2 separate regions of the Homo sapiens genome follow, and region 1 is linked to region 2. Evidence: fine-mapped expression QTL. A gene starts in region 2. The other region holds a variant in brackets. All regions are shown on one strand. Distances are between the middles of the regions.

Evidence for each region. PIP is the estimated chance that this variant, and not a neighbour inherited with it, causes the effect. A credible set is the group of variants that fine-mapping cannot tell apart.
Region 1: its variant is the best candidate, but not a certain one, in a credible set for the expression of AQP1 in lung (TOPMed, PIP 0.79).

What each region holds. Positions count from the first base shown.
Region 1 is chr7:30,880,690-30,886,053 of GRCh38, forward strand. MINDY4 (MINDY lysine 48 deubiquitinase 4) reads left to right here. Exons shown (of 18, transcript NM_032222.3): 16 at 1,492-1,672; 17 at 2,232-2,304. INMT-MINDY4 (INMT-MINDY4 readthrough (NMD candidate)) reads left to right here. Exons shown (of 20, transcript NR_037598.1): 18 at 1,492-1,672; 19 at 2,232-2,304. Among named protein-coding and RNA genes, the nearest start is that of AQP1, 28 kb to the right of the region's middle. RefSeq lists an enhancer at 3,355-4,256. The variant G/A (reference allele first, on the strand shown) is at 2,939.
Region 2 is chr7:30,909,606-30,914,969 of GRCh38, forward strand. AQP1 (aquaporin 1 (Colton blood group)) reads left to right here and starts at 2,248. Exons shown (of 4, transcript NM_198098.4): 1 at 2,248-2,688. The coding sequence starts at 2,305.

The DNA.
Region 1 (5,364 bases), 29 kb before region 2:
CACGTCCAGCCACGTCCTGTAAGACATCTAATTCCCCCACACTTCACTAAGGAATGAGCTCTGCAGTCCACTTCAATGGCACACAGGGCTGGGGTGAGGCTTCGGTGTGGGGGGAGGGGACACTTGAACCGTAAGAAAGGATGAGTGCGTTGTAAAGACTGTCCCCCTACCTTCTGGAGGAGGCAGCTTTAAATGTGCAGGAATTTCACTGGGGACCTGGTTCAGGACCTTCAGAGCACAGCCCCTCTGTCAGAGACATCCCAGATCAAGATGGGAGCTGCTCACCCACTCTCCTGTAAAGGGTTCTGGAAAAAGTATGCCCTTCTCCCCACTGGAAAAATAATTCCCATTCTTTCTTTAATCCACAGGCTGTAGCTGTAAATACCTGAGCATGCAAACATCTCCCTGGGGCTGGTAGGGATTAGGCCAGAATCAGCCTGGCCCGTGGCACGTACATAGCTGGATAAACCAGGGCCCAGGGTCAGGAGAGGCGCTGGCCAAGAAGTGTCAGGGGCTGGGGGAAAGTGCATGGAGGCCAGGCATTCAGGGGCTTCACAGGGGGCCCTTGTCACTTCTCTTCCCATTGTAGTCAAGATGCTAGCAACGTGCTGAGGGCCCTGGTGCTTATTCCTCTGTGTCTTCTTCCACAAACACTTCCACCATGTGAAATTCCCCTGCTTGGAATGCTCCTTATCCAAGTGTTGCTGCAACCTCAGTGCCCTGCTGCACCCTGAATTTCTCTGTCCCTCCATTCCTGGCACCCCCACAGACTTCTCACTCAGACCTTTCCCTCCTGGCTCCCCAGGGCTCCATTCCTAGTTGTCTTTACCGTGCAGTTCTAGTTCAAGTCCTGCTTCATCCATGAGGAATTTCATTCACCCGACATTTACTTACCCCGGGCTCCTGGAACTTAAGGGTATGATCTGTCGAGCATGAGGCAGAGGTGCTGCGGCTGAGGTGGGTGGGCACCTAGTGATGTGCTCCCTGGGAACTGGAAGGAGGAAACTATTTCTGCTCCAACAAGGGATTTGGGAGATGCAGGCTGTCCAACGGTAAGCAAGCTCTAGGCTAGTGGACAAGCTGAATTTGTTTGAGGGGTGTGGGAAGAATTGGTTAGGAGGTCACTGCCGTGGTGCAGGTTGGAGGCTGAGTAGATCTCAGGAGGAAAGGCTGGCAGTGGGGGAGCTCTTGGATGCAGAATGAGCAGTACTGGGAACCATTAGATGTGGGGGATGAGGGGGCGAGTGATACCGGGTCTCAGGTCTGTATGGCAGAGGCCCTGCGAGCAGCAGCAGGTGGGGTGGCAGGGCAGGGATGGCCCTGGGAAACAGCCCAGTGGCCTGAGCAGCGTGAGGGGCTCCCAGCATCAGACACAAACGTGATCTTCAGCAGGGCCTCTCTGAGGTCAGCCCTGCCTTGAGTCAGACAGAAAAATGCCCGGACCCCTTTCCCTGGGGACGGCATTTCACATCAGGCCTCTCCCTCATCCAGGTTGGCTGCTTCCTGAAGACCCCGAGGTTCCCCATCTGGGTGGTTTGCAGTGAGAGCCACTTCAGCATCCTCTTTAGCCTGCAGCCGGGGCTCCTGCGTGACTGGAGGACTGAGAGGCTCTTTGACTTGTACTACTACGATGGCCTGGCCAACCAGCAGGAGCAGATCCGGCTGACCATTGGTGCGGGCCCTCACCCCCCCACCCACCCAACCCTGTCCCCAAGGAGCCTCCAGGCTGGTCACAGAAACCAGCCTTCCTATCCACCACCAACCCCCATGACAGAGAGCAGTGCAGACTCCAGCATCCAGACTGGGGGATCAGAGAGCCAATGCCAGCAGGGCCTCCCTGCAGGAGGCGGCCAGAGCTGGGCCTTGAGCAGTGAGTGGCATTAAGGGCGTTGGGTAAAGCCTACACCACATGGTAAAGAGCCCTGAATACTATGCTGACAAGTTTGGATGTATTCTTCAGGCAGTGGCGAGCCATGGAAGGTTTTGGAATCAGGGTGGTGAGATCAGAAGTGTTTTTAGAAAGAGTATTGTGGTAGCTAAAGTGGGACACGGGTGGGGACCAGTGAGTTGTGCAGGTGAGAATGGATGTCAGGGATGAGGGTGGGTCCAGTTGAGATGGAGAGGAGGGGACAGGGACTAGAAGGGGGCGGGTCTCGGGAGTGGTCAGCGCTGACCTCAGGGTGAGTGCAGGGCCCTGGGTGACATGTGTGTGCCTCTCTCCTCCTTCCCAGACACCACCCAAACCATCTCTGAGGACACAGACAACGACCTTGTCCCACCCCTCGAGCTCTGCATCAGAACCAAGTGAGTCAAGCCCCTCTCTGGCTTTGAGCCTCACCCTGAATAGCTTTGAGGAGCCATGGTTGGGGGTGGTCAGGCCTGCAGGAAGGCAGATAGGTTCCTGGACCACCCTGATTCAAAGAGGTGTGGTGATTGGAAAGACACAGGTTTCTCCACTCGTGGTCACTGGGGCCCAGGTTCAGGAGTGTGTGGTCTGCAGTGGTGATGCGTCTTTAGACAGCTTCTGAGACTGCCTTCATGGTTGGGGGTGGGGGCTAAATGGGCACCTCTTGAAGCCCCTCCTCCCTCAAGGCAGCAGCAGCCAGATGTGGCAAGTACCGTTAGGCCCGAAGGAGGCAGGACAGGGGTGCTTACCTGAGGGTGGGGGAGGCTTGAGCAGGATAGGAAGCTGGGAGGCCTGGCCCAGCCTGGGGGTGGCAGGAGGTGCTGCCTGGAGCGACACCCTCTGCTTGCGGAGGAGCCGGAGGAGCAGCTCCGCCACTCTGAACACTGAGCAGTGTGCCTCTGGCCTCAGAGGCAGGTGGGAGCTTCAACTCCTCTGACCCAGCCCCTCTGTATTTAAGGGGAGGCTGAGGCTCAGGCCAGGGGAGGGGAATGTTCAGTAACTGGGGTGAGTTGGGGCTCACCTCCTTGCTGT[G/A]TTCTCTGAGTGGGCCCCTGGGCTGGTGGTGCGGTAGCTGTCAGAAGTGCTCCCCTTGCCCCGGCAGGCCCTTCACAAAGCCCTTGGGGCATGACCCAGAGGCCTCAGCGTGCATGAGAGGAGCAGCCCGGGAGGGAGAGGCCTGGATCCTGGTCCCTTCTGGGGGAGCAGTGGAACTGGTAACCTTTATGAGTGTGGGCTCTGGAGAGAAGTCGCCTGGGTTCCAGCCCTGGTGTTGCTGCTTCTTGGTGTGAGCCACTGGACCTCACCTTCCTGCACCCCACTTTGTCATCTGTAAAATGGGGGTGATGCATACCTTTCTCACTGGACCTTGTGAAGAGTGTCTGGGACGTTACTAAGTGCTCCATGGTGTTTGTGCTCACGATGATGACCTCAGCCACTCCTGATTTGGTGTGATCTCAGAGAATCTCCATTTCTCTGCCTGTGAAATGGTTGGGGTTGTGACGGGGGATGCAAAATGGTGAGGCCCTGCAATGCTTACTGCCTGAGATCCAGGGGGCACAGCAAGCTTAGGGTTGATGCCCACCACAGGAAAGCGAGCCCTTGAGAGGAGCTGCAGAGAAAGAGAAATGTTCACATGGTGGAAACACCAGGAAGGGGAAATGGGAGGAGCGCCGAGACATCCTCGACATGCTTTGTCCGTCCGTCCGTCCATCCGTTCGTCCATCCACCTGCCCGCCCCCTGAGCCAGGGATGAAGCATTCTTGCAGGGTCATGTGCTGGTGCTTCTTTCGTCGGGAGGATTAAGGGCACCTGCAGGTCGCTTTCCTTTCATGTACAAAGGGCCACTCATTCAAAATGATGAGAGAAAGGCAGCAGTGGGGACAGGAGGTGACACTAGCCTTGGCATCTGTACAGGACAGCGTGGGAGGCCACAGGGCATCCTTCCTGCAGGTGGGCCTGTTGAGCAGGGCTCCAACACCCTGGACACAGCCGCAGCTTGCCTCTGGACTCCTGGGACCCTCTCTGAAGGCCTCCGTCTGACTCTGTGTCTCTCTACCCCTCCCAGGGGGTGGCCCACCACCTGAAACCTCTCCACTGCCTCTTCTGGAGTAACTCCTTTTTCTCCAGAAATTATTCCACTGCATGACTCACCAAGCACCTCCCAGCGTGGGCCCAGGATTGGACTTCTTGGGCTCAGCTCTAATTGACAATTGTTTGAGATCGACCTGGGGCCTTGGTCTGCATGGAGCTTAGTCCATGCAGAGTGAGAGTCTTAGTGTGTGGACACGGGCCTGAACCTCCTCTTCCTCTTCTATTGGCTGCCTTCATCTCCCAAAACTTCCTTCCCCTGCCCCTTGTTCACTTGCAAGCAGGTGACAGTGAGGTTATGTGGGAAGCAGAGAGGCTGCATGATTTGGGCCAGGGCCCTGCCCTTCTCTGCCCTCACATCTGCTTAGTGTTGTGTGAGCTTGGACAAGGCTGAGCCCCACCATCTCCTTGAGCAGTCATGCATGGAAAATAATTCTATTTGTGTAGCACACAGGGGCTAAGAGGAGCCCATATGCATTTGTGGCTCATGCTTGGGGAAAGTTTGCTCCAGAGCAGTGGCCTTCAAGCTTCAGGGGCATCAGAGTCACCTGGAGAATATGTTAAAACACAGATCACCACCTATAATCCCAGCACTTTGGAAGGCCGAGACGGGCAGATCACCTGAGGTCGGGAGTTTGAGACCAGCCTAACCAACATGGAGACACCCCATCTCTATTAAAAATTAGCCGGGCATGGTGGCACACGCCTATAATCTCAGCTACTTGGGAGGCTGAGGCAGGAGAATCGCTTGAACCTGGGAGGCGAAGATTGCAGTGAGCTGAGATCATGCCATTGCACGCCAGCCTGGGCAACAAGAGGGAAACTCCGTCTCAAAAAAACAAACAAACAAAAAACCCAAAACCAAAAAACACAAAGCGCCGTGCCCCACACCAAGGGTTTCTGAGCTTTTTATTCAGTAGGTCCAGGGTAGGGCCCAATAATTTGCATTTTTAAGGAGTCCTCCAGTGATGCTGATGCTGCTGGTCCCAGGACCACACTTTGAGAACCAGGTAAGGGCAGTGCCCACCCCCCCCCCAACCCTGCTGCCTTGTGAGAGTTGGGTATCAAGTGAGGCATTGATTCTCTGGCCCGCCATAGGCACTGGGCCAGGGGAACCTTCTTCCTGGCTCCATTAGCTATCCCCTCATCCCCAGGTCTGTGTTCCATGTCTGCGAGAACTTTGCTGACACCAGCTGCCTGCCTGTTCCACTTCCCCCATCAATCCCCCATCATGGTGGGTCCACCTTGGCAGTTGTTCCTAGAAAAGCTGAGTGGGTGAGTGGTGAGTGGGAACACTGCCCCCATACCCACCAGGTGACATACCACTGCAGTGGGAAACAGCAGGCTTAGGGGTAAGTCCTGCTGTCTGTAGG
Region 2 (5,364 bases):
GTCCCAGCACCCGACAGCCTCAGAACATAGCAGGGCAGGGACAGGTGAGGGGAGGAGGAGGTGTGTATGTCCCTCAGTAGACATGGTCTACGGGAGATGCCCAGGAGCCTGTGGCCTGAAGGGAAATGGCCATGTTCCAGAGGACCCTGGTCTAAGGGGTGCCACCCCTGCCCTCAGGAGCCAGGTCTGCAGGAGAAACAGTTTGCCCTCCAAAACTTCAAGGTGAGGGGATCCTAGCCCTGCAGAGAGAGCTCTGGTTGGACGCCCCTGAAACTGACCAGAGAGCTCCTCATGTGGGTCAGTGTCCCTGCCAGGGCATGGGGCCAGGGGCCAGGGGCCAGGGGCATGAGGGAGCCTCCCAGAGACTGGAATGCTGAGCCAGGGCTCCTCAGAGGAAAGGATGTAGAGGAGGGCCCAGGAAGTAGCCCAGTGGGGCCAGTTTCCTCTCCTGGACAGCTAAGAAAGTACTTATGACCTTCGGCCACCTGGGCTGTCTGAGCAGGCAGGGCCTGCTGGCCACCACCGTCCTGTACAGGCACTTAGGGGAATGAATCTTCCCCACCTGCAGCCCCAGCAAACACACACCAGGCTGGTCCCTGGCAATTCACCCCAAGAGCCAGGCCACAGCTGGGCAGAGGGGTGGCCAGTAACAGCTGGTGTCATTCTCTGCAGGATAGCCCCTGGACAAGAGGCATAAGACCCACTCATCCTTGCCCTGCCCCAGGCACACTTAGAAAAGTCCTCTCACCGGGCCTCAGTTTCCCACCTATAAATGGGAAGATGCCAACACGCCCGAGTGGGACTGTGGTGGGGCAGGCAGGAGGTGGGAGGAGAGCCCAGATCATCCCAGGCCTTCCCTAGGGGACGCAGGGGGACCCTCCCTTCTGGGCCTGGTTCTTCCAGCACGTTCCATGCAGCAGGCAAGAGGGCCAGGCCCAGGGGTTCCTGACAGCTTGCTGGCCCTGGAGTCCAGATTCTTGTTTGTTGGCTGGCGCTAGGCCTCTGGATTGGAGATGCCCGGGGCACAGGCGGCCCACGGGGATCTGCAGCAGGGCCTCGGCCCCTCCCTCTGCAGGGGCTCGTCTGGTCCCTCCCGCTCTCTGCCTCTCCTCATTTATCTCTCCCTTTCTGCTTCTTGGCTCTGGGTCCAGTCCTATCTCCCCTGTTTCAGTTTGTCTTTTCCTAGCCCTTTGCGCTCTCTCTGTCTCTCTCAGCCCTGCTTGTCTCACTGTCTCTGGCTGGGGGATCTGTCTCTTTCACTTCCACTTTTGCTCTATTTCCCTGCTACTGTCTTTCCTTTCTCCTTGTCTGTCTCTTCTCCTCCCCTCAGCCAGCATCTGTCTGTCTCTGCCTTTCTCTCCTGCTCCCTCCCTCCCTCCTCTCCAGCACCTTCCAATGCCAGGTGGGGCTGCCATTCCTTCCACCTTCCCAGTGACCCGCCAGTGTGACTGCCTTGAGAGGAAAGTCCTAAACTGTCCCTATCTTCACCAGCCTGCCCTCAAATCATTGGTTCAAATCGCTGTCGAGAAGTTTGGGAGCTCCCAGGGCGGGGGCTTTCTAACAGCTCTGCCTAGCTCGGGCCTGCCCTCAACCGCAGCATGCAGGGCAGCCACAGACAACCTCTCTGCAACTTCTGATGCCTCCGTGCCCCCATCCACAGAGCCCTGGCTCTGGGGGACTGGGGACTCTGGGACATCCCTAACATGGCATGCAGTGGCGGTGCGGGAGGACTTGACTGCCCCTCTGGAGCCCTGGGCCCGGGGACTCCAGGCCAGTGCCTCTCTGGGTCGGGATGGGGATGTCAGGCCAGCAGGATCATGGTACCTGCCTCCAGGGAGGGCAACGTCCACCCACTGAGTCCAGCCCGCCCACCCCACCCACTCCGGAGCACCTGGCTCTGCCCTCAGGAACTCCCTGAGCTTTGCACACAGGGCCGAGACACCTGGATTTCTCTGGTTCCCTGAGTGGGGCCAGCTTGGAAGAATTTCCCAAAGCCTATTAGAGCAACGGCTGCCTCCTGCCTGCCTCCTTGGGCTGGGCAGGGCTGAGGGCGGAGGGAGAGAGAGAGAGAGGGAGGGGGAGAGGAGGAAGGAAAAAGTTGGCAGGCCGACAGCACAGCCGTGTCTGCATCCATCCAGAGGAGGTCTGTGTGGTGTGGGGCGGGCCAGGAGCGAAGAGAGGCCTTCCTCCCTTTGTGCTCCCCCCGCCCCCCGGCCCTATAAATAGGCCCAGCCCAGGCTGTGGCTCAGCTCTCAGAGGGAATTGAGCACCCGGCAGCGGTCTCAGGCCAAGCCCCCTGCCAGCATGGCCAGCGAGTTCAAGAAGAAGCTCTTCTGGAGGGCAGTGGTGGCCGAGTTCCTGGCCACGACCCTCTTTGTCTTCATCAGCATCGGTTCTGCCCTGGGCTTCAAATACCCGGTGGGGAACAACCAGACGGCGGTCCAGGACAACGTGAAGGTGTCGCTGGCCTTCGGGCTGAGCATCGCCACGCTGGCGCAGAGTGTGGGCCACATCAGCGGCGCCCACCTCAACCCGGCTGTCACACTGGGGCTGCTGCTCAGCTGCCAGATCAGCATCTTCCGTGCCCTCATGTACATCATCGCCCAGTGCGTGGGGGCCATCGTCGCCACCGCCATCCTCTCAGGCATCACCTCCTCCCTGACTGGGAACTCGCTTGGCCGCAATGACGTGAGTGGGGTGTCCCTGGGCTTGGGGGGGTTCTAGAATGATGCTGAAAGGCACTGGTTCCATCCTCTGCCCATTGTGCAGATGGGGACACTGAGGAACGGAGAGGACAAGAGGTTGCTGGAGGTCACGTAGAGAGCTGGGGGGAAGAGCTGGGGCTGGAACTCAGCTATGCATGCCTCCCAAAGCCTGTTTTCTGCCAGGCACTGTGGGAAGCTGAGATCCAGAGAATAATGGTCTTGCCAATGTCCCCTGCAGGGCATCTATTATGGGGAATAAGCTTGGCCAGCAGTTCCTCGCCCCTTGGCTGTAGCTTTTTGGCCCTTCTCAGTCCTGCCTGTGCCGCCAGCTCCCTCCTCCTGCAGCCCTGCACCCTGGGGAAACTTTGCCCGCTGTCCCCAGCCACCCTGAACCAAATGCCCAGCCTGTCTGCAGCTGGCTCTGCAAGTGTGTGAGCAGGACTCCCTCAGGGAGCCCCCCATATTCACACTAGTTTCCAAATAAACCACCTCTAGGAATCAAGAGAAAGGCCCTCTTCCACTCTTTTGCCCCTGAGATTAGACAAAGATAAGGGAGTGAAAACACTCTCTGGGGCTGTTTGAAGGCAGTTTTCCTGGATTACAGTATGGGCTGGGGGGCAAGCGCTGGGCTCCATGGTCTCTAGGCACTGAGAGGTGTGGCGTGTGTGTGCATGTGCGTGTGCGTGTGTGTGTGTGAAGGTGTGTATGTGTGCATGTGTTTGCCAGCATGAGTCTCTGTGCTTGTGTCAACTGTGTGCATGTTTGTGCTGCTGTGTAAGGGTGTGTGGGGGTGAGTTTGCAACACGTGCCCATGGCTCCTGGCTTGAATGGGGTCTGGACTGGGGTCACTAATGACAAGCAGATGCTGGTGACTGGGTGGCAGCTGTGGAAAAGAATGTCTCCTGGGCTGCTTAGCATGGCAAATTGGCCCTGGTGGCAGCTGCCTGCTGTCCCAGACACGGCCTTTCCCAGCTCCTCAGACAAGTGCAAACTCAGGCCGGGCTTGGGCCACAGCAGGGGAGGATTTGGCCTGAGAGACTGGGGAAGGCTTGGAGGATGTCTCTGAGGGCCCAAGGGACAGGTGAGCAGGCCTGGGGGTGCCCTTACAGGGAGGGAGAGAAGCCAAGGAGCAGAGAGGAGGACTCGTCTAGAGAGATGAGGCTGGCGGGGCTGTGGGCAGGGCATGTGGGTGTGGGGACGGTGTGGGCCATCTCTGAGGGCGCCTCAGAGATGGCAGATAGTGATTACAGCAGCTGTCCTCTCGCTTCCCAGCCAAAGTTCAGATCCTGCGGCTGGCAGCCCAGGAGAGGCTAGGTGAAGGTCTGGTGCAGAGGGCAGCTGGCTCAGCCTGGCCATGGGGGGCTTAGCACTTCTGTGTCACGGTGACACCTCACCCAACCTCCTCTGCAGCCAACCTCTGCTAGGCCCAAGATTGAAGATTAGCTCCGTGGGCTGGAGTTTAGACTTTAGCCAGTTTAGACGTGGCCGCGGGGGATGTACGGGACAGAGCTCAGGCAGGCCACATCAAGCTCTGCCCCCCCAGGCCTCAGTTGCCAGTGGGTGCAGAGCTTGTGGCCTCAGGGAGTTCTGCTGGGTAGGGTCAAGCTCACACTGAAGCTTGGCTGGGTATGATGGGCTGGGGGAGCGTCCCTGTAGGGGAGTGGATGTGATTTCCAGGCTTTCTGGCCCCGTCTCTTCCCTCCCATCTCACAGGGCGGAGCCTCTGCACCTGCTGGCGAAGGCTTCACCCTCTAGTATGCGCATCCGAGGCAGAGGCGGGAGGGTGGGCCCCTTCTGTGCCATCTGGAACAGAGGCCACACCAGCCTCCCGTGCCCCATTCCCTCCCTGGCCTTCATTTTTTATAGTCACCCCAATACTTGGGCTGGGCGTGTTGCAAATGGGAGAGAAAGAGGAGCAGCCTAGTGTGGGGTCCGGCCCTGGGCTGAGAGGCAGACACCTGGGTTCAAGACGTGTCCACTGCTAACTTGTTGAGCTTCTTTGGAGCTGCGGACCCTGACCCTCGAGAGGGAACTCAGGTCTTGTGACCTCACAGCCACACCCAGACAGCCAGCTCACTTCATTGCTTTGAGCTTATCACCCATCCCACGAAAGCTGGCTAAGAGCAGCCCAGCAGGGGCAGTGCTGAACATAAGGGCGCTTAGCATGATGGTGGGGGCTCAGGCGCTGTCCTGTCCCAACAGTGGAAGGGTGGGGTTCAGGACCTCAACTCTGGGCCTAGAAATAGAGAAGGTACCCCTCTAAGGGCTCCCGTCAGACACTGGCCCTGGAACTGGAGGGGCCTCAGGGGTGGCCTGGATGCCTCAAGAGGAGCAGGGAACAGTCTGGGCAGCAGGTGACACACTCTCTTTCATGACCTGGGGTAGGCTCCTGCAGCCTCTCTGGCCCTGAGCCCCAGCCCAGTCAAAACCTGGGTGGGGCAAGTGGTTGGCATGGAGATTTCCAAGGAAAACAGAGAAAGATGTGGCAGGAAGTGGTTGGGGTGAGTCAGGGGGTGTCCCTTCGGGACATGCTGGGGACAACTTTCTCCTGACTGACTCAGGGCTCAGGATATGCCCTAGAGAGACCGTGGGCCTCCGTCCAGCCTGCAAGGTCCCGGCTAGTTCTAAGAGCCAAATACCAATTTTGGCTAAGGGTGAG